Linked DNA regions of Homo sapiens. The protein of the gene in region 2 purifies or fractionates together with the protein of the main gene of each other region. This does not show direct contact. Each region holds a gene or a part of one and is shown on either strand. Other genes may lie near its edges.

What was found.
Region 1: the proteins of CD44 (region 2) and FGFR1 purify together in Homo sapiens (affinity purification with mass spectrometry; 4 studies listed by BioGRID and IntAct, with this or other methods). This does not show direct contact.
Region 3: the proteins of CD44 (region 2) and TMEM160 purify together in Homo sapiens (co-immunoprecipitation; 3 studies listed by BioGRID and IntAct, with this or other methods). This does not show direct contact.
Region 4: the proteins of CD44 (region 2) and VANGL1 purify together in Homo sapiens (co-immunoprecipitation; 3 studies listed by BioGRID and IntAct, with this or other methods). This does not show direct contact.

What each region holds. Positions count from the first base shown.
Region 1 is NC_000008.11:38,423,621-38,430,641, reverse strand, and holds part of FGFR1 (fibroblast growth factor receptor 1 isoform 1 precursor), read left to right. Parts: intron 1-693; coding exon 694-960; intron 961-2,206; coding exon 2,207-2,296; intron 2,297-2,548; coding exon 2,549-2,721; intron 2,722-4,396; coding exon 4,397-4,520; intron 4,521-5,942; coding exon 5,943-6,133; intron 6,134-7,021. UniProt on the Homo sapiens protein: Tyrosine-protein kinase that acts as a cell-surface receptor for fibroblast growth factors and plays an essential role in the regulation of embryonic development, cell proliferation, differentiation and migration.
Region 2 is NC_000011.10:35,205,156-35,212,176, forward strand, and holds part of CD44 (CD44 antigen isoform 1 precursor), read left to right. Parts: intron 1-629; coding exon of another isoform or gene 630-685; exon of another isoform or gene 686-892; intron 893-956; coding exon 957-1,088; intron 1,089-2,949; coding exon 2,950-3,051; intron 3,052-4,462; exon of another isoform or gene 4,463-4,809; coding exon 4,810-4,899; exon of another isoform or gene 4,900-5,619; intron 5,620-6,090; coding exon 6,091-6,294; intron 6,295-7,021. UniProt on the Homo sapiens protein: Cell-surface receptor that plays a role in cell-cell interactions, cell adhesion and migration, helping them to sense and respond to changes in the tissue microenvironment.
Region 3 is NC_000019.10:47,045,622-47,053,588, reverse strand, and holds TMEM160 (transmembrane protein 160 precursor), read left to right. Parts: upstream 1-4,964; 5' UTR 4,965-4,974; coding exon 4,975-5,182; intron 5,183-6,903; coding exon 6,904-6,996; intron 6,997-7,336; coding exon 7,337-7,602; 3' UTR 7,603-7,680; downstream 7,681-7,967. Other genes in the region: NPAS1 (neuronal PAS domain-containing protein 1), read right to left, coding at 7,938-7,967.
Region 4 is NC_000001.11:115,637,627-115,644,982, forward strand, and holds the start of VANGL1 (vang-like protein 1), read left to right. Parts: upstream 1-4,343; 5' UTR 4,344-4,460; intron 4,461-5,002; exon of another isoform or gene 5,003-5,080; intron 5,081-7,356.

The DNA.
Region 1 (7,021 bases), on a different chromosome or scaffold from region 2:
GCCTCCCGTCCTAATATAGTCAACAGCTCCAAATCCCCTGCCCTGACACCTGTTAGCGAGAGGTTCCCTGAGCTGACCTCTCCTTGGGCTGCCCCCCCAGCATGTGCATCTGACGCGTCGAGGGCCAGACCCCCACCCTCTCCGAATCACACGCATCCTGGTCAGCCCCCAGTTGACAAATTGCCTTCTCTCGACTTGGGCAGGGGCTGCTGGGGTTTTGAGGGGCGGGGTTTGTTCAGCTGTTGCTAGGGAAGGGTGAGGCTGAGCTATCCCAAAGGAAATGGGGTGTTCCTCTGGCAAGTGGCAATCTTGGCAAAGAACTGAGCATCTGGGGAGGGGGCAACTCCGGACACAAAGAAGTCCTGGGGAGGGCCGACCTTTCCCCTTAGGATGGGGGAAATGAAATGCGCTTAATGCTGCTACAGCTGCTTCCTAACTTTGCCTCTTTCTTCCTTTGACTTTTGGAGGAGTGGGGTGGAAAAGAGATGGGGGTTCCCAGGCAGCCAGCTGTTTTCCCCACTGACCCATGCTCCAATTCCCACTGCCCTGGCTCAGTAGCCTCCAGTAAGTGATGCCCAGGATGGTGCGGCTCCGTGTGGCCAGCGTAATTCCCTTTGTCTCTCCCCTCCTCCCCTCTCCCTGTCTTCCTCTCTCGCCCCTTGGCTTCCCTTCCCGGCCCCGTGGTGGCTGCAGCCCAGCCCTGGGGAGCCCCTGTGGAAGTGGAGTCCTTCCTGGTCCACCCCGGTGACCTGCTGCAGCTTCGCTGTCGGCTGCGGGACGATGTGCAGAGCATCAACTGGCTGCGGGACGGGGTGCAGCTGGCGGAAAGCAACCGCACCCGCATCACAGGGGAGGAGGTGGAGGTGCAGGACTCCGTGCCCGCAGACTCCGGCCTCTATGCTTGCGTAACCAGCAGCCCCTCGGGCAGTGACACCACCTACTTCTCCGTCAATGTTTCAGGTTGGTAGCCAAGCCCTGCCCTTGCCCCTCCCTAGACCCACCCCCTCCAGCCCTCTCTGCCAGTTTCAGAGGAAGGTGAACCTCCTCCCCCTCCGTGATCTGCCCCCACTCTGCTTCAGAAACTGCTGCCCACTAACATTGCTCCCTGCCTGCCGCGTGGCTTGGCTCTCAGAGAGGTGACTAGGTGGGGTGGGCCCCAGGGCCGGAGATCTGGGGCTTCCAGGACACACCTCGGAGGTGATTGCCAGGGCTCTTGGGATGTTAAGACCCTGTGATTTTTTTCCACCACAGCTTGCCCAGATCTCCAGGAGGCTAAGTGGTGCTCGGCCAGCTTCCACTCCATCACTCCCTTGCCATTTGGACTTGGTACTCGGCTTAGTGATTAGAGGCCCTGAACAGGTGGTGGTATCCCTGCTCTGCTGGAGAGGAACCCAGGTGCACCGCAAGGGAGCTGTGCGAGGGCAGCCAGGGAGCCCTGGAGCTCTGTGAACTTGGGAACTTGCCACTCTTAGAATGTGACTTTCACAAAACTAGGAGTTGAGGAAGTGGAGCTGAAATTTTCTTTATGCCATTTATGCACCTCAGGGTGTGGACTTGGCAGCAGATCCCCAAAGGTGATAGGAAGGACTGGAGAAAGATCTGGCATGAACCCTGATGGGTGACCACATGTGTATCAAGCGTGTTCTTACAAGAAATAAATACTTATTGGGGAGAGGTGTTGGCAGCTGCTGGGGTGGTGGGTGCCCTATCTGCTCTGATTAAGGAGGGCAGCCCCCAAACCTTAGTAGACACATGCTAGAAAAATTCTGACTGTGGGGTGTTTAGCCCATCCTTTGGAAATAGCATCTAGCCACAGTGTGTCTAGACCTGCCTGGGTTTCCCTATAGTCAGCCGTCCAAAGAAGAATACAGGTTGCCTGGCTCCAGCACACCCAGGTGGCACCACAAGTTGAGAAAGCGCCTTTGAATGTAGGACGGAATTAAGTTAAATAGGAACAGCTGACCCTGATGGAACCACCCAGTGTGAAGGCTTCCAGGCAGTGGGGGCAGTGCTTCGGGGAAGGAAGCAAACACGCACAGGAACTGTTCTTAAACAGTTTCCATCCCACCAAGAGATCATCACTAAGGGAGCAGTGGGACTGGGATCCCCATGGGGAGGGTGTCCGTGTTCATCTGGAACTGCACTAGCCTTGGTGAAATCTAGGGGTCCCTAGGAGGAACCTCAGTGCCCCTTCTTCTTCCCATAGATGCTCTCCCCTCCTCGGAGGATGATGATGATGATGATGACTCCTCTTCAGAGGAGAAAGAAACAGATAACACCAAACCAAACCGTATGCGTGAGACACTGTTTCCTATCTTACTGCCCTTTGGGTCTGGGCATTGGGTTTAAGAGGGGAGGGGAAGGCTGAAAGGGGAGGAAGAGGAGGGCACATGGGGTCACGGTGCCTGTTCTGCTAAGTGCCAGGCACTGCTCACAGGTGTTGGGCAGATGGGCAAGACACCTCCAGGTCCTGGCCTGGGCCCTGCTCCTGAGCCTGACCAGCTGCTCCTCTCCACCCTGCCTGTCTCTCTTGGCTTTCCCCGGGCAGCCGTAGCTCCATATTGGACATCCCCAGAAAAGATGGAAAAGAAATTGCATGCAGTGCCGGCTGCCAAGACAGTGAAGTTCAAATGCCCTTCCAGTGGGACCCCAAACCCCACACTGCGCTGGTTGAAAAATGGCAAAGAATTCAAACCTGACCACAGAATTGGAGGCTACAAGGTACGTGTGTGTGCATGCGAAAGTTAGAGTAATGGGAACAGGGGAGGCCGAGTTAGGAAGTCCTGATTACATGCTTTTCATTTTTTTAAGTAATACTTTCCACCTATACAGGTTATTCATTAAAATTTTTAAATACAAAAAAATGCAAATAAAGTTTAAACATTTCTTCAGTCTTCTTTCTGTAATATGGTTTTTACATAGTTGATCACATCATGTATGTAATTTCCTTGCCTTGTCATTTGTTAACATGAGTCTTTTCCTGATATATTTCAAGCATGAATATTTGAAACATAATTTTTCATGACTGTATAAGATTCCATTATTTTAAAATCCCATAATTTGGCTGGGCATGGTGGCTCACGCCTAAAATCCTATCACTTTGGGAGGCCGAGGTGGGCGGATTGCCTGAGCTCAGGAGTTCGAGACCAGCCTGGGCAACATGGCGAAACCTCCTCTGTACTAAAAATACAAAAAATTAGCCATGTGTGGTGGCAGGCTCCTGTAATCCCAGCTACTGGGGAGGCTGAAGCAGGAGATTGCTTGAACCCAGGAGACAGAGGTTGCAGTGAGCTGAGATCACGTCATTTCACTCTAGCCTGGGTGACAGAGTGAGACTCTGTCTCCAAAAAACAACAGAAAAAGTCCTATAATTTAATGAACTATTTTGTGATATTAGGTATTTTCTGGTTTTTCACCATAATAAATAATGTTGCAGTGAATCTCTGTCAGCATTTTTTTAAGCGTGCTTCCTTAGGACAGATTGTTACAAGTGAAATTACTAACTTAAAGGGTGTAAGCATTTTTTTTTTTTTTTTAGACGGAGTCTCACTCTGTCACCCAGGCTGGAGTGCAGTGGTGCCATCTTGGCTCACTGCAAGCTCCACCTCCCAGGTTCATGCCATTCTCCTGCCTCAGCCTCCCGAGTACCTGGGATGTGCAGCCACCATTCCCAGCTAATTTTTGTATTTTTAGTAGAGACGGGGTTTCCCCATGTTGGCCAGGCTGGTCTTGAACTCATGACCTCAAGTGATCTGTCCGCCTGGGCCTCCCAAAGAGCTGGGATTACAGGCTTGAGCCACCGCACCCAGCCAGAAATATTTTAAATTAATTCACCATGCACTCACTACATGCAAGACACCATGCTTTAAATGCTGCAAGATAGCGTTCCTGCCCATAAAAATTTTGCAGTCTGATAGGAGGCAAATGTCCATGAGCAGCTACCGTAAAAAGTAGACTGTGATCAGTGCTTTGGTAGGCAGAGAGGAAAGGGTGAGCACAGTTCTGACCAGAGACTGGACTGGAGGAGATGGTTTTTGAAATGAGCTGTCAAGGACAGTGGGGGCTGGATTCTTAGTGTAATAGGAGAGGTGCACAGTTGGGAACATTCTTGGTGTATTTGGGAGTGTTTGCAGAAGGCACATCTGTCCGGATCACGAATGATCTTGAACGTCACAGTGGAGACTTCTGGAGTCTTTACACCCCATCTGCCAGCTTGCAGAGTGTGAACGGGCTGGTAGGGGGGCAATCCACGCCTTGTCCTAGCCAACCCTGCAGCCTGGGGCCCTGTGCCACCAGGCTCTGATATGGAGGGCAGGTGCCACGGGGTGCCGACATTGTCATGGGGCCTGCATTTTCCTCTGGACCCTCAATGTATCCCTTTGGCATTTCCCCTCAGGTCCGTTATGCCACCTGGAGCATCATAATGGACTCTGTGGTGCCCTCTGACAAGGGCAACTACACCTGCATTGTGGAGAATGAGTACGGCAGCATCAACCACACATACCAGCTGGATGTCGTGGGTAAGAGGGCAGAGGCAGCAGGAGGAATGAGTTTAGTGGGAAGAGCCAGGCTTGGAGAACACAGCCGGGGTGTCCAGGTTTCTTAGGGGCAGAGTCAGGATAGCGATTGGCACTTCTTGGCTTTGTCACCTTGAGCAGGTCACTTCTCCCTTTTGAGCCTCACTTTTCTTATCTGTAAAATAGAGTTAAGATCAGACAGTAACACGGTCAAAGCTGGTTGTCACTGTGAAATTGAAGGTGCTGTTCAGAGTCTGTCCTGAAGGAGGCGTTGTTGGAGAGGTGTTAAATGTAGCGTAATAGGAGCTGTCGCTTAATGCTAGCAAGATGCCAGGCTCCTTAAATACCTGCCCTGTAATGCTCATGGCACACCTGCAAGGTGGGCAGTATTAGTCTAGCCCTGCACAGGAGCACAGGCGCATAGGCTCAGAGAGGTCAGACACCTTGCTAATGCAGAACTGCACACCTGTGCCAACTTCAGGGCATCACAGGAGACTCTGGGAAGAACATTGAGCCTCTTGGAGCTATTACCGCAACCTTTTCCTTCTAGGAGTTCTGAAACTCACTCCCTAGAGATCATTGGGTACAGAATCTCTCAGCCAGTGTTCTTCTTGATTATGATGATATGGTCTAAGAAGGAGATTGTGGCCAGGAGCAGTGGCTTATGAGCTCCAGGTGGCATGATGGGATTACTCACGCCTGTGATCCCATCACTTTAGGAGGCCAAGGCTGGAGGATTGCTTGAGGCCAGGAGTGTGAGACCAGCCTGGGCAACACAGTGAGACCCTGTCTCTATAAAAAAATTTAAAAATTAGCCTAGTGCAGTGTCATGTACTTGTAGTACCAGCTGAGTTAACTGAGGCTACTGAGGTGGGAAGATCACTTGAGCCCAGGAATTCGAAGCTGCAGTGAGCTATGATGACACCCTTGTGCTCCAGCATGGGTGACAGAGTGAGACCCTGCCTTTAAAAAAAAAAAAGGTAAAAAGGAGATTCTGATCCAAGAGGTTGGGGTAAGATCTGAGATTCCGCGTTTCTAACAAGCTCCTAGGGGATGCTGGTAGCACTGCTCGTGGACCACACTTTGAATAGCAGGAGTCAAAGTGACTCTGGTTTTTTAAGGAGGAGCAGGTTGTGCTGAGGTCTGGGGGTGCAACTGAATTAGAAGGTTCTCCATTAAAGCATGAGCGACTTACTGTGACTGTAAATATGATGACTGCCTTGGGGAGGAGGATCCTGATGGCTTAGGGCCTGAAGAGAGGGTGTCCCTTTCCCCAGCTCTGTTTTGAGAGGCTTGGGCTCAGCAGAAGTGCTGGGAGGTTTACAACCCATCACTGGGAAAGCCAAGTGGGGCGCAGGTGAGCCCACCCCTCTTTAGCCATGGCAAGGTCCCCATGACAAGTGCCTCCTCTCCCATCTTCCACAGAGCGGTCCCCTCACCGGCCCATCCTGCAAGCAGGGTTGCCCGCCAACAAAACAGTGGCCCTGGGTAGCAACGTGGAGTTCATGTGTAAGGTGTACAGTGACCCGCAGCCGCACATCCAGTGGCTAAAGCACATCGAGGTGAATGGGAGCAAGATTGGCCCAGACAACCTGCCTTATGTCCAGATCTTGAAGGTAATCATGGCACCAGTCTTCGTGGGCCAGTCTACTGGGAAGGAGACCACTGTCTCGGGGGCTCAAGTTCCTGTGGGCAGGCTCAGTTGCCCCCGAATGGGATCATTCCTCACGCTTCAGGCACACACACTCCATCTCAGTAGGGATCTAGCCACATCCCCCAGGACTAGTAACAGAGGTCACAAAGTGGAGGTGAGCTGGGAACAGAGGGCTGCAGGGATGGGTGGTGCTGGTCTGTAATAAGCTTTGAGAGCAACGTCACTGGGGCTTTGGGGTCAGCTACACAAGGAAGGCATTTGGACCCCTGCCTTTTCATTGCCCGAAACCAGAGCCTTTCCACCAAGCGTTTCCCAGTCTTAGCCCTGTGTCCTGAGTTACGTACGATCTTTCTGGCAAATGGGGTGCATGATAAGAGCATCTCTTACGAAGAGTTGGAAAAACAAATGCCATATATAAATTCTAAGCCATATGAGGACGAGGAGTAATGGCATTTTCTTCCTTTTTCCTCTCACTCCCAGACATTCATTGTCCCTGAATGCTCCATTAATCCAGGGAAGGTAATTGCCTAAATCTCCAGTGGATCTCGCAACAGGAAGGAACCAGAAGCTGGGAAAGTTGTTTACCTCTTTGTCCCAGAGTTAGACCTCATCCTCCCCTAGCTTAGCTGTCTCAGAGATATACTGGCCCTCCCTTCTCTTCTCTTTGCTGCTGGTGCTAAAACTGCTCTGTAGGTCATTGGCCACTGTCTCCACTCACAACCCCTGCTCCAGTCCTGGAGGGAGTGGGTTAAACACAAATAGAACATTCCATTTGAAGCAGTGATTCTTTTTTTTTTTTTTTTTTTTTAATCAAATGCTTTGGACTTTTGAAGTCCACTTGTTCTGTACT
Region 2 (7,021 bases):
AAAAAGGTATCTTCTCTATTCTTGAATTGTGAGATTGTGGAAATTGGAATCCAGTCTTATCATCATCTCTAAGTGATACCAGATAACTTGGCTTTGCAAGCTCCCATGCAGGATTCTTTTGTCTGTGTGACATAAGTATTAAAATGTGTCCTGCCTTATAAAGAATGTGAATTCCATATTCTCACTTGGTATCAGTGAGAAATATTCCCATATTTCTATTTGCAACATAGAAGATAATGCATCATGTCCTTCTGGGGCATGGCAAGTTCTAAATGAATTCCTGGCAGAGCAATGGATTCTGTGATTGTCTATGTGGTGTAGTTGTTGCTAAGAGGATGCTATTGTAATCTTTTCTACCTATACTTCTTCATTGGCTCAGAATGAAGCAAGGCATGTGCTGCTTTCTTATATGTCATTTATGCCATAAATCCCATTGTTAGAAGGTAATGCTTCTAACGGATTCCATTCATGCTTTTGAGATAAATGGCATTGACTTTCATATTGATCACATGGAAAGCTGTTACCTGATTCCTTTCCTGAGATCACTTCCAGCCTAATGTGCATTTGGCTGGAATATGGTTGTCTCAGAATAACATCATGCACTCGGGCTTTTATACTTCTGCCTTTAGGGGACTGTGGCAGCATGGCATGGGTCAAGAAGTACTTCTCCTTCATCTTCCTTTGATGTCGGTAACTCATCCTTTCTGCACTGCGGGAGTTGTTAATGCTTTTGTGTCCTCCAGTTCACATGCTGATTGCTAAGAAGAAAATGAGCATGAGTGAACCCAAAGCTGCTGAAACATTCTGCGTTTATGCAACTTCCTTGCCCTCTATACAAGGAAGATGGTTTCATTGTCTTGTCTAGAGAATAAAGTCTTTTTTAAAAATAAAATCGGTGTATCCCTGACCAAGCGTCCATTAACACTTTGACAATTGCTCAAACTGCATGGTCACAGCAGCCTCAGCTCATACCAGCCATCCAATGCAAGGAAGGACAACACCAAGCCCAGAGGACAGTTCCTGGACTGATTTCTTCAACCCAATCTCACACCCCATGGGACGAGGTCATCAAGCAGGAAGAAGGATGGGTAATAGCCTCTGAGATTTTTATATATTATGTTTTTTGAAATCCACTGAGTGACTGCTGACTATTTTTCTAGAAATATGCCCTTGGTTTTAGACCAAACTACTTTCCTGAAGGACCTGAGGTTCTTCAAAAATTAGTTTTCTTGGTAGGAGTGATACTCATATTCACCTGAATATGAAGTTCTGAGCTGAAAGTAAGGAATTTAGCAGGAGGGTTGGCAAAAGAAAAAACTTATTGTCAAAATATATCTGTGTGAGGCAGTAAGTAATAGATATGAAATGAATGTTGCCAACAATAAACGCTAAAGAAATTCTGAGAACCCCTCCCTGCCCACCACAGCATCACAGAAAGGTGAATTGGACTTGGTTTATGAAAAATAAAAAAACCCTGGATAGTCAGAGAAAGGAAGTGGGTGGTGGGGGTTGGTGGGGGGGGCAGTTTTCCTAAGAAGGAGACTCCTGTAAGGAGAAACGTGAAGGAAGAAAAGCCAAGGAATGAATATGTCAGTGAGTGGATCCATTTTTCACAAGGGAAGATGTGTTTGAATGGCTAGGCAGGGGCCATTATGTTGAGTGACTGAAGTACCACAGGCAGACCCAGCACACATGAGTTTGCACATGGCAGCTGGAGCTCTGAGGACACCCATGGGGGAAAACCAAGCCAGGCAAAGATCTTCAGAATCAATATTAATTCTATGTACTGATGAAGAGAAAGAGATTCCATTAAATTAATGAACATGTCAAGGACAATACAATTGGCTTCAACTACACAATGGTATGATGACTCTTGAAGGACTCTACTTATAAGAGGGAAGATGAACAAGAGTCTAGAGCCCATCATCAAGTGGGACTTTTTCTGGGAGAATGTCCATTTGTGGTTTTGATTCAGGTTAGCACTTGCTCTTGTTTGAAATCTGGGATAACAGGGTCACCACATTTTTGTCCTACAAAGATCTTTAATATTTTAGTGTTGAATATTTAGTGTTGAATCTTGAATATTTAGTGTTGAAAGGCTGCAGTGCAGACCTGGGTACCCAGTATTCTGGTGCTTCACTGGGACTGATTAAATCTCCCCCAGAGGCAGTGATGTGGATAGACTTTGACTGAATTGACAGCCAGAAATATCGATGGGGTTTATGAATTGTTTGGCCTCTGTTTCACTCAAGACTTCTTATTTCAGCAGAGTAGATCTGTGATAACTGTTAAAAACAACATTTACAAGTATTTCAGTGAAATTTCTGCACTACTCAACATTGTACATGTTAAATTTTAAAGACCGCTTATACTTGGGTTTTTGGGAAGAATAATTCAATGACGTCCACTGCTTCTTATTTCTTGCCCCTGTATACTTTCTGTAACTCCACCTAGGTGGTCTTGGATGACGATTCTGTTTATTTGCATATTCACTTTGTGAAGAAAAAAAGACTAAAGGGGGGAAGAGGGCTATTTTTAAAAGTCCCTTTGGTTGGTAAGGGGGAGGGGATAAAATGGTGCCTGAGCCAGCACACTTTGTCTTTTCTCCATGTGTCAGATTGCATGTTTCTATAAAAAAGGCAATGTTTCTGTCTCTCTGCAAGATTTGGGTGTTCCATCATGCACTCATGTGGAGTCCTTCCAGACTCAGCAAAAACAAACACACAGCATAGCTTTCATATAACTCGGCCCTTCAAGGAAAGCCAGTTACTTGTTGTGGTGCTCTTTGATGAAACAATAATCTATCTCAGTTCGGGAGATATAGTCAGTATGTGCTTTCTTTCCTCTTGGCCAGATGTGAATATTTAAAAAAATCAGCTGTAGACCATAAGCCACCTTCAGGTAGTGGTTTGGGAAATCAAGCAATAACACTAATATTGATTCCTTCAGATATGGACTCCAGTCATAGTATAACGCTTCAGCCTACTGCAAATCCAAACACAGGTTTGGTGGAAGATTTGGACAGGACAGGACCTCTTTCAATGACAACGCGTAAGAATAACGATGCTCAGCCACTTTATTGACTTGTATTCCTGCTTCATCTCTTACTCGCTATTGGCCAAGATGCAGAGCTTTGGTGGTGGAATGGTGCTATGTGGCTTACTTCAGCCCAGAGTGTGAAACTGTCTTCATTGTCTGTATTTCTTGTGGAGGTCTCTCAACCTGATTTTCCCTTCATTTCTTTGTGCCTTCCAGATTTAATGACTTTGTGTTTTAAGAAAAAGTAGGACTCTATTCAACTCCATTTTCATTCTCTAAGTAGTTATGTCAGTGAAACACATGCCCACTTCCAGGATAGTGATTTCTCTATGTTTTAACTGACCATTTCCTTTCAATGTCCATCTTTCCTCCAGCCAGTGCAGAAGAGGGGTAGGATTGCTTGCATGGTTGTAAAAAGACATTTTTGGGGCCAGATAATCCTAGAGATCACATCAGTTCTCAGAGGAGAGGCAAGGCATGTTATTGACAATCAACAAAGGTGGCGGGATCCCTGGAACAACAACAACAACAAAACATTGCTAGTATCTCTTTCTATCACTAAGAAATGTTCAAATTCTAGTAGCCTTAATTTCTACTCTATGTGCAGGGATGTCCTAGAGATCAGCCTAAAGTCGTTCATAATTTCTTTGAGGAATACAAAAGAAATCTAGAATTAAGAAGGTCCCATTTTACTGCTTGCCACACATAATGGGCAGAGTCCTTCATATGAGCCCTTTAGGCAAAGGAAAAAAATCAGCAAGCATGTATTGATGGTCAGCAATGTAAATAGCACAGCGTTAAGCATCAAAGGAGATGCAAATAAGCCTATGAATGGTCCTTGCCAAAGAAGGACTTATATTTCCGTTTTATGTCACTGTTGGCTTTTGTTCTGACATTGGGTTTGGGATTTAGTGACTGTCTTTCTCCTGGTTGTAATATTTATTCGGTGGTGGGCATGGCTTATGGGTGTGCTTTATGAAGTTTTTGCACCTGCAACTCAGGTCAGTACCTTTCTTAAAAGAACACAAAAGAAATAAACTTGAAACAGTCCAAGTGATTTTAGATATGGGCAATGGGTCAACCTCCAGTTGATATATGTCACTGAGGGCCCTGTGTTTGCCCAGGCAAGCGTTTCCTTGGTGCAGTGATGAAAATCCCAATGCACAGGTGAAATTAAGAAATAACTTAATAATGGAGTAAAATGGTAACTTTAATTTAATGACCTTTACAAGGTAGCTAAGTATTTCCTTGTATAAATTTGATCTGTGTTACTTGAGTAGGCTATTCTAGATAGGCTTCTTTTTCTTTTGTGGTTACAACTAGACTACAGGCTATCATAGTGTTCATTTTCCCTGCCGTCACATTTCTTGACACACAGTTAGGTGCTTTTGGTTACTGATAGGAGCATTGGGATTCAAATATTCTTTTTTCCATGTCTCTGTGTTCTCTGGTTTTCTGGAGTGACTGGGAGCAATGCTGCAATTGAGCCTGGACAATCCAGGATAGGCAAAGTTTTGGCTCAGTCTTCACCTTGCCACTTTACCTTTGATGATTATACTGAGAAATAAAGGGTCTTCAGAACCAAATAGGGGCAAAATAGAATTCTTCTGTATATTTCTATCAATCAGAGGAGAATTGTGTGCACAAACCTTGGTCTTCCTATGCACCTATCCATCTGACTCTACTCTAGCTAGATTTTCCTTGCTAGCAGATAACAGGATTTGTACCGTAGCTTCAAATTAACACTGGATTCATTCCTCATTGAAACAGAGCAGAGTAATTCTCAGAGCTTCTCTACATCACATGAAGGCTTGGAAGAAGATAAAGACCATCCAACAACTTCTACTCTGACATCAAGCAGTAAGGATTATAAAACCTAGTTGGCTTCAGCTATTGATAAGAATCAATCAATTATGGGTACTTTTGCAGTGTCTTTGGTGGAGGTGCATCCATTAGCTGCCGTTACACTGTTACTTTTAATCAAAAGGTGCGTCTGGTGGTGGTTCTCTGATTTTTCTGTTTTATATACCTCTTCGTACATTAAGTGCAAACTACATTTCTTCATCTTAAAAGTTGGGTTTCTTTCACTCTAGAGTTAGTGATTTGTTTTAACAATAATGGATTGCTTATATATGATTTATTTTATTTATTTATTTTTGTTAACTTGAGATCTTTCTAACTTTTTTATGTGGGCGTTTAAATTTAGTGCTATAAATTTCCCTCTTACTACTGCCTTAGCTGTGTCCCAGAGATTCTGATATGTTGTATCTTTGTTCTTATTAGTTTCAAAGAACTTCTTGATTTCTGCATTAATTTCATTATTTACCCAGAAGTCATTCAGGAGCAGGTTATTTAATTTCCATGTAATTGTATGGTTTTGAGTGAGTTTCTTAGTCTTGATTTCAAATTTGATTGCGCTGTGGTCCAATAGACTGTTTGCTATGATTTCAGTTCTTTTGCAGTGTGATTTATAATTGGCGTAAATGTCTGATTATATCACTTTACATTCCTCACAATAATATTGTTTTGCCTTTTGTCCTCTGGACCTCCATGGTGCTGATGACTAAAAAGCAGTCCCTTCTGGAAAAGAAAAGAATAATTAAATTAGTAGCCTCAGGCCTTTGAAACCATGCATTTGCTATTTTAATTGCAGGCAGCAAAATTTTATCTTTCAATCCAATGATATGTTTCCTCCACTACATCAAAGATGAATCCAATTGAGAAAGAACTCAAGATTATCTAGTACCTCAGCTGACTTCAAGATCACAGTTGTAGTGACATAGCCTTACCTAATAACCCAAGCAGATGTTGCAACAAATGCCAATTCTGGGTATTAAGATCACCAAAATCTCTTCTGTTGAGTGATGTCCAAGTAGTGTCTATTGCAAAATATTTATTCTGTTCAATAGTATGACAAACTTCACTCTATTTCTCCCTATTTATGGATAACAAGTGGAAAGCTTTTGCAGCAATTGTGTGTTCTGGAGACAAGCACATGGTGGGTGGTGATCTTACAAATACGGGTTCATCACTGATTCCACCTCCACACAGATAGGAATGATGTCACAGGTGGAAGAAGAGACCCAAATCATTCTGAAGGCTCAACTACTTTACTGGAAGGTTATACCTCTCATTACCCACACACGAAGGAAAGCAGGACCTTCATCCCAGTGACCTCAGCTAAGACTGGGTCCTTTGGAGTTACTGCAGTTACTGTTGGAGATTCCAACTCTAATGTCAATCGTTCCTTATCAGGTAATTTGGCATTTATTATCTAGTTTGCTTTCTCTATATAGAGAAACAATATATAGTTTCATATTACAGAGGACATTTTCTGTGTAGTCTGGGATTGGACTAGTTTGTGATATGGAAATATCTTTCATTATTGGTTATCAATTCTAGTGCAAATAAACTTGGGTATATTTTAGATAAAAGAATGCTTCCTTTTGCCAGTGTTTTTTCCATTTGTCTGTGTTTGCATGTGTGTGTGTGTGTGTGTGTGTGTGTGTGTTGTGTGTACAAGTTGGCTGTTATGATGGAATTGCTTTCTTTGTCTTATCTTGTGATATATGAAGTTGAACCACATGAAACTGATATTTTTGCAGGTGAAAGTAGTCGAATTTTAGCAATTCCGTTTAATTCGACTAATATACTCTACTTATTTTGTAAGGTTTTATCCTACAGGTGAATAATTTCTATATACTAGTATCTTTGCTCTGAAATTATTATCTTGTTTTGGTAATAGATTGATCAGTTTTACTTTTGGTGATGGATAAACCTCTTCTAGTTCTGATGCACACTTAAAATGTTCATGATTTAATCTAGTATTAATGAATAGGGACCACTTCTCTTATTGTAATAGTGAAGAGAGGAACGAAGATAATTTATTCAATGAAGTTTGACACGGACCTAGAATAAGTCTTTTTTTTTCTCAAATAAGTAGTCATCTCTGCTTCTGCTTTTCTTTGCTTCTCCATTTGTA
Region 3 (7,967 bases), on a different chromosome or scaffold from region 2:
AAATCAGATGGCGTTTAGGCTCTTTTTCTTCAAATATAAAAATCCAGCCCAGTACATGGCTCGTTTGACAGCAACCCTGAGACGCTTTATAGCCCTAGACCCTAAAAGGTCAAAAGGCCGTCTTATTCTCAATATACATTTTATTACCCAATCTGCTCCTGACATTAAATAAAACTCCAAAAATTGGAATCTGGCTCTCAAACCCCACAACAGGACTTAATTAACCTCGCCTTCAAGGTGTACAATAACAGAAAAAAAGTTGCAATTCCTTGCCTCCACTGTGAGACAAACCCCAGCCACATCTCCAGCACGCAAGAACTTCCAAACGCCCGAACCGCAGCAGCCAGGCGTTCCTCCAGAACCTCCTCCCCCAGGAACTTGCTACACATGCTGGAAATCTTGGCCACTGGGCCAAGGAATGCCCGCAGCCTGGGATTCCTCCTAGGCCGCGTCCCATCTGTGTGGGACCCCACTGAAAATCGGACTGTTCAACTCACCTGGCAGCCACTCCCAGAGCCCCTGGAACTCTGGCCCAAGGCTCTCCGACTGACTCCTTCTCGGCTTGGCGGCTGAAGACTGACGCTGCCCGATCACCTCGAAAGCCCCGTAGACCATCACAGACGCCGAGCTTCGAGTAACTATCACAGTGGAAGATAAGTCCGTCCCCTTAATCAATACAGAGGCTACCCACTCCACATTACCTTCTTTTCAAGGGCCTGTTTCCCTTGCTTCCATAACTGTTGTGGGTATTGACAGCCAGGCTTCTAAACCTCTTAAAACTCCCCAACTCTGGTGCCAACTTAGACGATACTCTTTAAAGCACTCCTTTTAGTTATCTCCACCTGCCCAGTTCCCTTATTAGGCCGAGACACTTTAACTAAATCATCTGCTTCCCTGACTATTCCTGGATTACAGCTACATCTCATTGCTGCCCTTCTTCCCAATCCAAAGCCTCCTTTGCGTCCTCCTCTTGTATTCCCCCACCTTAACCCACAAGTATAAGATACCTCTACTCCTTCCTTGGCAACCGATCATGCACCCCTTACCATCTCATTAAAACCTAATCACCCTTACCCTGCTCAATGGGTAAGGCCTTTTAAGCCTATAAACTCTCCTTACAATTCCCCCATTTTACCTGTCCTAAAACCAGACAAGCCTTACAAGTTAGTTCAGGATCTGTGCCTTATCAACCAAATTGTTTTGCCTATCCACCCCATGGTGCCAAACCCATATACTCTCCTATCCTCAATACCTCCCTCCACAACCCATTATTCTGTTCTGGATCTCAAACATGCTTTCTTTACTATTCCTTTGCACCCGTCATCCCAGCCTCTCTTCGCTTTCACTTGGACTGACCCTGACACCCATTAGGCTCAGCAAATTACCTGGGCTGTACTGCCGCAAGGCTTCACAGACAGCCCCCATTACTTCAGTCAAGCCCAAATTTCATCCTCATCTGTTACCTATCTCAGCATAATTCTTCATAAAAACACACGTGCTCTCCCTGCTGATCGTGTCCAATTAATCTCCCAAACCTCAATCCCTTACAAAACAACTCCTTTCCTTCCTAGGCATGGTTAGTGTGGTCAGAATTCTTACACAAGAGCCAGGACCGCACCCTGTAGCCTTTCTGTCCAAACAACTTGACCTTACTGTTTTAGCCTAGCCCTCATGTCTGCATGCAGCGGCTGCCGCTGCTTTAATACTTTTAGAGCCCTAAAAATCACAAACTATGCTCAACTCACTCTCTACATTTCTCATAACTTCCAAAATCTATTTTCTTCCTCATACCTGACGCATGTACTTTCTGCTCCCCGGCTCCTTCAGCTGCACTCACTCTTAAGTCCCACAATTACCATTGTTCCTGGCCCGGACTTCAATCTGGCCTCCCACATTATTCCTGATACCACACCTGACCCCCATGACTGTATCTCTCTGATCCACCTGATATTCACCCCATTTCCCCATATTTCCTTCTTTCCTGTTCCTCACTCTGATCACGCTTGATTTATTGATGGCAGTTCCACCAGGCCTAATCGCCACACACCAGCAAAGGCAGGCTATGCTATAGTACAAGCCATGAGCCCGCCTCTTAGAACCTCTCATTTCCTTTCCATCGTGGAAATCTGTCCTCAAGGAAATCACTTCTCAGTGTTCCATCTGCTGTTCTACTACTCCTCAGGGATTATTCAGGCCCCCTCCCTTCCCTACACATCAAGCTCAGGGATTTGCCCCCACCCAGGACTGGCAAATTAGCTTTACTCAACATGCCCCGAGTCAGGAAACCAAAATACCTCTTAGTCTAGGCAGACACTTTCACTGGATAGGTACAGGCCTTTTCTACAAGGTCTGAGAAGGCCACCGCAGTCATTTCTTCCCTTCTGTCAGACATAATTCCTCAGTTTAGCCTTCCCACCTCTATACAGTCTGATAACAGACCAGCCTTTATTAGTCAAATCAGCCAAGCAGTTTTTCAGGCTCTTAGTATTCAGTGAAACCTTTATATCCCTTACGGTCCTCTGTCTTCAAGAAAAGTAGAACGGACTAAAGGTCTTTTAAAAACACACCTCACCAAGCTCAGCCACCAACTTAAAAAGGACTGGACAATACTTTTACCTCTTTTGCTTCTCAGAATGCTGCAGGGTACAGCCTATTTGAGCTCCTGTATGGACAATCCTTTTTATTAGGCCCCAGTCTCATTCCAGACACCGGACCAACTTAGACTGTGCCCCAAAAAAACTTGTCATCCCTACTATTTTCTGTCTAGTCATACTCCTATTCTCCGTTCTCAACTACTCATACGTGCCCTGCTCTTGTTTACACTGCTGGTTTACACTGTTTCTCCAAGCCATCACAGCTGATATCTCCTCATGCTATCCCCAAACTGCCACTCTTAACTCCTGAAGTAAACAAATAATCTTTGCTGGCAGGACTATGCTGAATCTCCTTAGGCACTCTCTAATCAGATGTCCTAGGTCCTCCCAATTCTTAGACCTTTTATACCTGTTTTTCTCCTTCTCTTATTCCATTTAGTTTTTCAATTCATACAAAACTGTACCCAGGCCATCACCAATACTTCTACACAACAAATGTTTCTTCTAACAACCCCACAATATCACCCCTTACCACAAAATCTTCCTTCAGCTTAATCTCTCCCACTTTAGGTTCGCACGCCGCCCCTAATCCTGCTTGAAGCAGCCCCGAGAAACATCGCCCATTCTCTCTCCATACCACCCCCCAAGACTTCAACACTATTTTGTTTTATTTTTCTTATTAATAAAAGAAGGCAGAAATGTCAGGCCTCTGAGCCCAAGCCAAGCCATCGCATCACCTGTGACTTGCACGTATACATCCAGATGGCCTGAAGTAACTGAAGATCCACAAAAGAAGTAAAAATAGCCTTAACTGATGACATTCCACCATTGTGATTTGTTCCTGCCCCACCTAACTGATCAATGTACTTTGTAATCTCCCCCACCCTTAAGAAGGTTCTTTGTAATTCTCCCCACCCTTGAGAATGTACTGTGTGAGATCCACCCCTGCCCGCAAAACATTGCTCTTAACTTCACCGCCTATCCCAAAACCTCTAAGAACTAATGATAATCCACCACCCTTTGCTGACTCTCTTTTCGGACTCAGCCTGCCTGCAGCCAGGTGAAATAAACAGCCATCTTGCTCACACAAAGCCTGTTTGGTGGTCTCTTCACATGGACGCGCATGAAACGATTCTCCTGCCTCAGCCTCACAAGTAGCTGGGATTACAGGTGCCTGCCACCATGCCTAATTTTTGTATTTTTAGTAGAGATGGGGTTTCACCATGTTGGTCAGGCTGGTCTCGAACTCCTGATCTCGTGATCTGCCCGCCTCAGACTCCCAAAGTGGTGGGATTACAGATGTGAGCCACCGTGCCTGGCCCGGGCTTGGATTTTATGAAGAGGAAAAGTAGGGGAGCTAGCAAGGGGGTTACACTTGAGGAGGGAGTTCAAATGGACTGCACTGCATAGCCTGCAGGCTTGCAATGAATGTGAAGCTTTAAATGGGATTAAGTGCAAATTGAAAATATTCCAGACACATTTTTCACATTCCTGGCTAGTGAAAAGGTTTATGCTGATGAGAGAAGGCAAAGCTGAATCCCGGAATGGGTTAGGGCAAAGAAAACAAATCTGTCTTAAAGAGACAGACCTGGCCGGGCACGGTGGCTCACGCCTGTAATCCCAGCACTTTTGGAGGCCGAGGCGGTTGGATCACTTGAGGTCAGGAGTTCGAGACCAGCCTGGCCAACATGGTGAAACCCTGTCTCTACTAAAGATACAAAAATTAGCTGGGCGTGGTGGCGCATGCCTATAATCCCAGCTACTCAGGAGGCTGACGCAGGAGAATCGCTTGAACCCGGGAGGTGGAGGTTGCAGTGAGCCGAGATCGCACCACTGCACTCCAGCCTGGGCGACAGAGCAAGACTCGGTCTCGGGGCGGGGAAAAAAAAGGAAGGAGGGAAGGAAGGAAGGAGGGGAGGGAAGGGAGGGAGGGAGGGAAAAAGAAAGAGAGAAAGAAAGAAAGAAGGAAAGAAAGAAAGAGAAAGAAAGAAAAAGAAAGAAAGAAAGAAAGAGAAAGAAAGAAAGAGAAACAACCAAGAAACAACTACAATAGGTGCTCGGCATGTACTCCGTTAAAAAAGATAGAATTAAAACTACAATTCCCAGCAGACATCTCGCCTGCGACTTCTGAATATCGGCTTTCCCCGAGCGCAATGATCGCTGGGATTCGTAGTCCGGTACAAAATCAAGGAGGGACGGGCACTACCGGCCTAGATGACAGAGGAGGGAATCACTGCCATTCCGACCAATGGACAGTTCACGCCGGACCTGAGTGGCGAGCGCATAGCCAATGGGTAAGCCATTCATCCTGAGTGACATGGGTTGCAACCTACCGGAGGCCGGTGGGGCGGTACGGCGCGCGGCGGCCGTAGTGCGAATCATGGGAGGCGGCTGGTGGTGGGCTCGGGCCGCTCGCCTTGCCCGTCTTCGCTTCCGGAGGTCGCTACTGCCGCCTCAGCGGCCCCGGAGCGGGGGCGCCCGGGGGTCCTTCGCCCCCGGCCACGGTCCCCGCGCCGGGGCTTCGCCGCCCCCAGTGTCCGAGCTGGATCGTGCGGACGCCTGGCTCCTCCGAAAAGCGCACGAGACAGGTCGGTGGCTAGGGGTGGGGGCGGTGCGGATGGGACGGGGGTCCCGGGCTCGCGTGGGACCTTGATGGGGCGGGGGCTTCTGCAGGAAACGGGGCCCGGGCTCGGCTCCGAGAAGGGCTTCAGTGTGAGCGCACGGAAGCGCAGACTGCAAGAGCGCAGGTGCCCGCAGAGGGGATGGGCTTGCGGGGAGGACGAGGACCCCGGGTAACGGGGCGCCGTAGGGATTGGAGGGGGTGGTAGGGTTGCGCGAGGCAGCCTCGTAGAATCGCGCCTGCCGTGGGGAGAGGGGCTTCAGGGAGAGCTTAGGGTCTGTGGAGTTGGGTACAAGATGGGTCCATCCCGATTGCAGAGGCCACCACTGTGCAGAGAGCGGGAGTGTGGATCCCCGCAGAAGAGGGGGAAGTTCAGGATTGGAGAAGGGGACAACCAATCGGGAGAAAGCTCTCTGCTGATTGGAGGGGGAGGTGATCTAGGCTGCAGAGGGCGGGGCTTGTGACGGAGGCGAGGTCCAGAATGGAGCGGACTGGCCATGTTTGTTTTTTTTTTAATTTTATTTTTTTAATGACGGTGTCTTGCTCTGTCACCGAGGCTGGACCGCAGTGGCGCAATCGTAGCCCACTGCAGCCTTGAACTCCTGGGCTCAAGCTATCCTCTTGCCTCAGCCTCCTGCTTAGCTGGAGCTACAGGCATACACCACCGCACCCAACTATTTTAATTTATGTAGAGACGGGGTCTTGCTTTGTTGCCCAGGCTGGTCTGAACTCTTGGGCTCAGAGAATCCTCCTGCCTTGGCTTCCCAAAGTGCTGGGATTATAGGTGTGAGTCACCTCACTAGGCCAGGACCGGGCATCTAGATATAGGGTGTGGTGGGCTGTTTGTAAAGGACGTGAATGGGGACGGACGTGGGTGGGATTGGCCCAGGCCATACTCGGTAGGACATGGATGGGATTGGCCCAGGCCATACTCGGTAGGAGATGGCGGCATTTGAAGGAAAAGAAGGGCGAGGCTGAAGAGCGGCCTGGATTAGGAAACAGTTTGTCCCAGAGTTCTGAGAAAGAAGTGAGTGGGCAGGCCGTGGGGGTACACGTAGAGGGAGGGGTTTGGCCAAGATGACTCCTCAGATGGAGGTTCTGCAACTTTGCCCCTAGATTGTCCTCCACATTCTGCAGGGACTATCTTGAATCCTTTATTTTTTTTGAGACGGAGTCTCACTCTGTCGCCCAGGCTGGAGTGCAGTGGCATGATCTTGGCTCGCTGCAACCTCTACCTCCTGGATTCAAGTGATTCTCCTCCCTCAGCTTCCTGAGTAGCTGGGACTACAAGCACGTGCTACCACACCCTGCTAATTTTAACATTTTTAGTAGAGACAGGGTTTGACTATGTTGGCCAGGCTGGTCTCAAACTCCTGACCTCATGATCCGCCTGCCTTGGCCTCCCAAAGTGCTGGGATTACAGGGGTGAGCCACCACACCCGGCCCTTGAATCCTTAGTGTTACAGAGTTTGGGGGAGAGGGGCACTGAGGTGGAGGCCAGAGAGGATGTGGGGGGATATGGTTAGGTGAGCGGCTTCCTGGAAGAGGTGAGGATTTGGGATGGGCTTGCCTTGCGGCTGGATGGGATGGGGTGAGCTGAAGGGAGGCCCCTCAGTTTGACTGGGTAAGGGGGATTGAGGAGGTAGGGTTGGGGGTGATGTTAATCCCCCCATGTCCCCCTCCCTCCAGCCTTCCTCTCCTGGTTCCGCAATGGCCTCCTGGCATCGGGCATCGGGGTCATCTCCTTCATGCAGAGTGACATGGGTCGGGAAGCAGCATATGGTGAGTGCAGACCCCCCCTCTCGCCCCACGGAACCAGGGAATGCAGAGCCCCTATCACCTGCCCTGGTGAGAGTAGACTCTCCTACCCCATCCCACTCCCAGTAGTAAGTATAGAACCCCCATTCTTCCCCCACCAGAAGACACCCCTCCCATAGGCACTAGGTCCATCTGAATGGGTGGCCCAGGACATGGTTATGGTCCCCTCCCCTCCGATCTGATTCTCAAAGATGCAGGCTAGCCCCTGGCACGGCCCTGCCTCTGTTCCTGTCTCCTCAACCCTGGCTTTGCTCCCAGACCATCCCCCGACCTTGGCCCTGTTGCTACCCTGCCTCTCCCGCAGGCTTCTTCCTGCTGGGCGGCCTGTGCGTGGTGTGGGGCAGCGCCTCGTACGCCGTGGGCCTGGCGGCGCTGCGAGGACCCATGCAGCTGACGCTGGGGGGCGCGGCCGTGGGCGCGGGCGCCGTGCTGGCCGCCAGCCTGCTCTGGGCGTGCGCCGTGGGCCTCTACATGGGGCAGCTGGAGCTGGACGTGGAGCTGGTGCCCGAGGACGACGGGACGGCCTCCGCGGAAGGCCCTGATGAGGCGGGTCGGCCGCCACCCGAGTGAGCGACACGGCCGTGGGGCCTGGCAGGCGCTGGACAGCGCCCGAGGACTGGGACATTAAACCTGACCTCCCCTCCTCCAGATGCAGAGTATTGGTTCGTGTTCCTTGGGAAGGGCGGCGAGGAGCGGACTAACTGGAGAGGCAGGAGGGCGGGTGGAGGGAGAGGGGGGTGAGGACCCGGGGGAGACAGAAATGGACAGAGGAGCTCACAGCCCGGAGCCCAAACCACTGCAGGGAGAGCCGGCGTTTAATTCTCAGGGCTACGGGCAGAGCCGGGCCTACTGTCCTGGGGGACCCCGGTTGTCGCAGGGTCCGGCGCCGGCAGCTCTGCCAGTCCTCAGTCCCCCTTCCGCGGCAGCCTGGTGCC
Region 4 (7,356 bases), on a different chromosome or scaffold from region 2:
GTGGTTCCTTCAGGAGCTCTTGTAAGGTAGGCCTGTTGGTGACAAAATAGCTCAGCATTTGCTTGTCTGTAAAGGATTTTATTTCTCCTTAGCTTACGAAGCTTAGTTTGGCTGGATATGAAATTCTGGTTTGAAAATTCTTTTCTTTAAGTGTGTTGAATATTGGCATCCACTCTCTTCTGGCTTGTAGCAGTTCTGCAGAGAGATCCACTGTCAGTCTGATGGGCTTTCCTTTGTGGGTAACCCAACCTTTCTCTCTGGCTGCCCTTAACATTTTTTTCCTTCATTCCAACCTTGGTGAATCTGATGATTATGTGTCTTGGGGTTGCTCTTCTTGAGGAGTATCTTTGTGGTGTTCCCTGCATTTCCTGAATTTGAATGTTGGCCTGTCTTGCTAAGTTGGGGAAGTTCTCCTGGATAATATCCTGAAAAGTGTTTTCCAACTTGGTTCCATTCTCCCCGTCACTTTCAGGTACAACAATCAAACGTAGGTTTGGTCTTTTCACATAGTCCCATATTTCTTGGAGGCTTTGTTCATTCCCTTTCATTCTTTTTCTCTAATCTTGTTTTCACACTTTATTTCATTAAGTTGATCTTCAATCTCTGATATCCTTTCTTCCGCTTGATTGATTCAGCTATTGATACTTGTGTATGCTTCACGAATTTCTCATGCTGTGTTTTTCAGCTCCATCAGGTCATTTATGTTCTTCTCTAAACTGGTTATTCTAGTTAGCAATTCCTATAACCTTTTTTCAAGGTTCTTAACTTCCTCTTATTGGGTTAGAACATGCTCCTTTAGCTTGGAGGAGTTTGTTATTACCCACCTTCTGAAGCCTACTTCTGTCAGTTTGTCAGACTCATTCTCCATTCCAGTTTTGTTCCCTTGATGGTGAGGAATTGTGATCCTTTGAAGGAGAAGAGGTGCTCTGGTTTTTGGAATTTTCAGCCTTTTTGTGCTGGTTTTTCCTCATCTTTGTGGATTTATCTACCTTTGGTCTTTGATGTTGGTGACCTTGGGATAAGGTTTTTGTGTGGACGTCTTTTTTGTTGATATTGATGCTATTCGTTTCTGTTCGTTAGTTTTCCTTTTAATAGTCAGGCCCCTCTGCTTCAGGTCTTTTGGACTTTGCTGGCGGTCCACTCCAAACCGTGTTTGCTCGCGTATCACCAGCAGAGGCTGCAGAACAGCAAAGAACAGCCTGTTCCTTCCTCTGGAAGCTTTGTCCCAGAGGGGCACCTGCCGGATGCCAGTCAGAGCTCTCCTGTATGAAGTGTCTGTCGACCACTGCTGGGAGGTGTCTCCCAGTCAGGAGGCACAGGGGTCAGGGACCCACTTGAGGAACCATTCTGTCCCTTAGCAGAGCTCGAATGCTGTGCTGGGAGATCTGCTGTTCTCTTCGGAGCTGGCAGGCAAGAACATTTAAGTCTGCTGAAGCTGCACCCACAGCTGCCCCTTTCCCCAGGTGCTCTATCCCAGGGAGATGGGAGTTTTATCTACAAGCCCCTGACTGGATCTGCTGCCTTTCTCTGAGATATGCCCTGCCCAGAGTGGAGGAATCTAGAGAGAAAGTCTGGCTACAGTGGCTTTGTGGAGCTGCAGTGGGCTCTGCTCGGTTCAAACTTCCCAGTGGCTTTCTTTACACTGTCAGGGGAAAATCATCTACTCAAGCCTCAGTAATGGCGGATGCCCCTCCCCTCAACAAGCTCCAGCATCCCAGGTCGACTTCAGACTGCTGTGCTGGCAGCAAGAATTTCAAGCCAGTGGATCTTAGCTTGTTGGGCTCCATGGGGGTGGAATCCCCTGAGCTAGACCACTTGGCTTCCTGGCTTCAGCCCCCATTCCAGGGGAGTGAGCAGTTACGTCTCACTGGCATTCCAGGAGCCACTGAGGTATGAAAGAAACCTTCTGCAGGTATCTCAGTGTCTGCCCAAATGGCCGCCCAGTTTTGTGCTTGAAACCCAGGGCTCTGGTGGCATAGGCACCCAAGGGACTTTCCTGGTCTGTTGTTTGTGAAGACCATGGGAAAAGCATAGTATCTGGGCTGGAATGTACTGTTCCTCACAGCACAGTCCCTCATGGTTTCCCTTGGCTAGGGGAGGGAGTTCCCCAATCCCTTGCGCTCCCTGGGTGAGGTGACGCCCCACCCTGCTTCAGCTCGCCCTCTGTAGGCTGCACCCACTGTCTAACCAGTCCCAATGAGATAAGCTGGGTACCTCAGTCGGAAATGCAGAAATCACCTGCCTTCTGCATTGATCTTGCTGGGAGCTGCATACTGGAGCTGTTCCTATTCAGCCATCTTGCCCAGGTCCCCCGGCATGTTTTTTTTTTTTTTTTTTTAATTGAGATGGAGTCTCGTTTTGCCCAGGCTGGAGTGCAGTGGCATGATATCAGCTCACTGCAACATCTGCCTCCTAGGTTCAAGCAATTCTCCTGCCTCAGCCTCCTGAGTAGCTGGGATTACAGGTGCCTGCCACCACGCCTGGCTAATTTTTTTATTTTTAGTAGAGATGGGGTTTCGCCATGTTGGCCAGGCTGGTCTTGAACGCATGACCCCAAGTGATCTGCCCATCTCAGCCTCCCAAAGTGTTGGGATTACAAGCTTCAGCCACCAAGCCCGGCCTCTACATGGCATTTAAAGGTGAATTTATTATTTTAAAATAGGTTATTTGCAACTACCCCTCTTTCCCACAAAACATCATCTGGTAAGGTGGCTAGACATAAGAACCTAAGTGAATTAGAATTACTTTCTGAAAACTCATTGAAGATCTCTGTGTTAATTGGAGCTATTCAGGTACATGACTAGAATTGGAAATCCCTGGCCTGTTTGAACTTTGAAAGTTCTACATTTTAGAGATGAGAGAGACATGTTTTTATAATGTTCTACATTTCTGACCCTGAGTGCTGATTTGGGTGAATAGACCATTGGCTTTACCCATAGGAACCTGGCTGCCTGAGTCAGCAACATCTGCTCTCTGGAGCCTACTGGGAGGCTGGGGGTGGGGGAGGAAGATGGTCTAGGCCACTGAGTGGGGCAGCAGAGCCTGGGGACTAGGAGTGGTGAAAATCAGCCACATTGAACATATGGGTGTCTTCTCAAGGAAATGTGACATATGCGAGAGAAAATGGAGTCTAGAAGGGATGAGGAAGAGGTGATCAAGGGAGTGAGGGGTTCTTGGAGCCAAGGTTCCCTGATTAAGGCTAGTCAGGGTGGGCCTGCATTTCCCCACCCCAAATGCCCGCAATACTCCTGTAGACAACTCTTAGGAAATTCAGCACTTCATTATACACTGCTTCCACTGGAAAATCCTGCCACGTAAGCAGCTTTGGGTCCCAGCTAGATTGGAGATGATCAGTAAGGAACCCTAATGCTACCAACACAAGACAACTAAGAAAAGTGCAAATATTCATGAAAATCGTTGCCAACTGTTTTGTAATCCTCACCACAATCCTGCAAGGTGGACAGCAGCATCCTCACCACTTTTCAGACAGGTAAACAAAGGCTCAGAAAGGAAACAGTACCTGGTTGGAATCAGCACTGAAGCTTCAGCTACCTGCCTGCAGAGATGTGCTCATCTAGCAGTTTCTAGGAGACTAGGCTGGCGGCAGTGCCTGCTCTGATAAGGGAGGAGGAGGGGAGAGGCTTGCTGTGGTGGCTTGTAGGGGGTGTGTGTGTGTGTGTGTGTGTGTGTGTGTGTGTGTCTATTTGTGGGGTCATTTCCAGGGCTACATGTGAGTTTAAGTGTGTGTATATGGGTTGAGATATGGTGTATATGGATATTTGTCGGTCAGTTCTTGGAAAGTGTGTATATGAGTGTGTGTTGAGTGGGGTTGGGGGGTTAGTCCCTGAGCCGTGTGAATATGTGGATGGGGGCACTCGTGAGGGCAAATGGGCTCGGATTTTGTGCATGATTGTGTGTGTGTGTGTGTGTGTGTGAGCTTGAGATTCCAAGTATGTGGGGGAGGGAGGGGGCGGTGTCGGAGATCAATCCCTGGGCCATGTGTTTATAGTGTGTGTGTCTGCCCAGAAGAGAGTGGGTTACTGGGCTGTGCACGTCTGTGTAGGGTGAGTGTGTGTATGAGGGTGAATGAGTGTGGGAGGTGTCATTCCCTGGTCCGTGTGTAAGAGTGTGACCGCGCACGCCTTCGTGTGTGTCCCGGGTGTGTGGGGTCGGGGCGGTGACGAGGTGAGGGGGACGCCGGCCGAGCCCCGCCCTCCGCTGCAGGTGGGCCGGCCCCGCGGCGGGGCCGGCAGCGCTAGCTGTTCTTGGCTCGCGGCCGCGCCGGGCTCGCAGGGCTGGGCTCGGGCTGCGGGGCGGCGCCGGGACAGGAAGCGGAAAGCAGCAGTGCAGCGGCGGCGGCGGCGGGGCTCTGCCTCTCCAGGAGCCCAGCGCAGGCCGCAGAGCCGGGGCCGCTGTGAGCCGAGACCGCGGGCCGCGGAGCTCGGGCGGCCGGCGCGGAGGTGAGTCCCGCGAGAGGCCGAGCGCTGCGCGGCGGCGGTCCCCGGGGCAGACCGTTGGCTGGGAGACGCCCCCACCTCGGACCCCGCGTGCCCCTGCGCCCTCCTCCCGCATTCGCCCCGCCGGACTTCGACCCCGGGTGGCCGGCTCCCGCCTCGGGCCGGGGGCTCCCTCCCCTCCTCCGGAGCGCTCCGGGTAGTGCTTCCTCTGACTCCACTCTTCTCCCCATGCGTTGCGCCCCTCCTGGCCCTGCCGTGCGATCTCCGCCGCACCCCACTCCTTGGGGTCCCGGGGTTCCCTGCTCACACCTCGGACGTCCCTTTCTCCCCGGGCTGGCCTTTGGAGTGCGCCCCTTCGGTGCGCGTGCCGGGGCGGCGGGCAGGCCGGCAGGGAGTGGCCGAGCGTTGGAGGCACCGGGCGGCTGCAGCAGCCGTGCAGGGCGGGAGCCGGGCGCGCACCGGGGTTCCCACCCCTGGCGGGGCTCGACCCGGGCGCCGCCTGGCCCTTCGCCAGGAACCGGGACAGAGCTGGTCTGTGTGCACACCTCGCTCACAAAAAATTGAGCCGGCCCTGGAGGCCTGGGGGGCGAGTCCGGTTGCGCCTCGGAGAGCGCAACAGGCAGGTAGGAGTTTACTTTCAAAAACGCCGGGGTGGAGCAGAGGCGCCTGGCGGGTCTCTGCCCAAGGTGTCCCTGCTGGAGGAAATCTCACCGCGCCGGGGCAGCCTTCGCCACCGGCAGGACCTCATTTCCTTCTGCAGTCTTTGAACTGCCCCAAGCATCGCGCCTAGAGAAGTGTGAAGCTTTATAAAAATTTAAACGCGTCCGTGGTGGCGGCAGCAGTGGGGCGGAGCCGCGGCCTGGCTGCTGTGTGATGAGCAGATGAGACTTGGAGCTGAGGAATCTGTTGCTCAGTTTTCACTTCTCCAAACCAGGTCTAATGCCCACGCTGCGAAGGTGTTGTGAGCTCTCTTAGATTCTCCTTAGGAAGTGTTAGAGCGCCTTATGATGATGATTGTGTAGATGGCCCATGCATTTTGTTAAAACTCTTGACCTGGCTTTGGTTAGAAATGAATGTATTCTTAGACACTTAGTCCAAAAGCTAACAAACTGTAAAAGAATCTGGCATTTTCACTGACATGTTTATAAATTTTACGGGGCTGCTGAAAAATATTATAACTTGTATCACCAGTCAACAATGCTAATTAGCATTCTCCCGTCAGTGGGTGGGTTGAGTACACAGCTCCCAGGCTCTGCAAGTGAGATGGCAGAAATTGTCTGAATACAGGGAGAGGTAATTAGCCATTTTCTGTAACCACTAATTATAGAGTTTTTAGGGTTGAATTAAATCAATGTGATATAGTTGGGGCTTTGATTTGTGGGAGGAAACTGTTTCTTTTTCCAGTTCAAAGAAATAACACGCTTCACCTATCCATGAGCATTAAACATTCCCAAACGTTGATGTCTCTCAGTATAATTAGTGAAAACACTCAGTGTGGAATTTCACTATTAACAATGTTGGCAGTGAGGCTTGCTTGCAACTTAATTTGTAAGTAAAATGGGAGAAGAATTTTGAGAGTGATATATTTGTAAGGACTGCTTGCCAAGCAGTACATTTTTATTGTCTTATGTATTAAGCAACAGGACAAAACCATAAAGGAAATTTAAAGTTTCTTTACCAAGCAACAATTCCATGTCACCCTTTGTTTGAAGGATAAATGTGTTGAATGAAGAAGGCATCCTCCCCTTCATCATCCCCTTAACACACTTATATACACACACTGTGCTTGCTACCCTAGGCCTTATCAGCTATTTTGGTGGGATGGGCCCTTGTCACATTGTGTTTTAATTGGAGGTCTCCACATTGGGGCTGTGAGCTCATTGGGAGTTAGAACTATTTTAGATCCATTTCTTTTCTCCTGAGTGCCCCACGATGCTTGGAACACTGAACCTGTGAGTAGAAGTTGAAATTGCAAAATTCTTAGTGGGGTTATATGTGGTTTGGGACAATTTGTGATTGTTGCTTATACTCCTCTATATAAACAAACAATTCTAGTAATTGCTACAGTGCTGTCAATTTTCTGTAGCTAAGAACACAGGTTCTGGAGTTAGACTCTCAACGTTTAAGCCCTGGCTCCTGTGGCAGTCTGGTTTCCCTAACTAACATGATATTAATGTCTTATTTTTCTTAAACACTTGTTATGCGGATTAAGTGAGATATTACATGTAAGTGACTTAAAACAGCATCTAACACATAGTAAACACTTGACAACTAGAAACTGTTAGACTATTACCATCATCTCTGTAAAATCAGCTAGCTGGTTAGGGTCTCGCTGTATAGGGCATGTGATTTGGGCATCATGCTATTCTATTTTCCTTAAGATGGAAAAGATTAGGTGGGCTTGTGATTGGACCATGTTTCTGTTAGCAATATTGGTTTGGTGTTAGCAGTATTGGTTTGATGTTAGCAGTATTGAAGTTTGATGCAAGGATACATGTGTGTGCTGTTGTCTCTAGCAGTGTCCTTCTGAATCCCAGTTACAGGACAACAGTGATCAGACTCTGTACCATCAGATTTACAGAGGAGATAGTACTCATGAGATCTATTTTTCTGAAGTTTAAATATCTGGCAGGGAACAAGGGAGTCACTTGCAAGCAAATATACATCACATAACTCCAGACATGTTAACGATTCACACCTCTTCAGAAATCTGTACCCAGCTGCTGGAGGTGTTTCAGGGGTAATTAATGACTGGAGCCAAGAGAAGTTATTCTGGCAAGGTGAGTTGAAATCATTGGCGAAACAAGTAAAACAAAGTTGACATTTTCTTTCCTTGTAAATAATGACCCAGAATCATTCATTTATAAGCTGTTGTAATAAAAGAATCATTGGGTTTGTC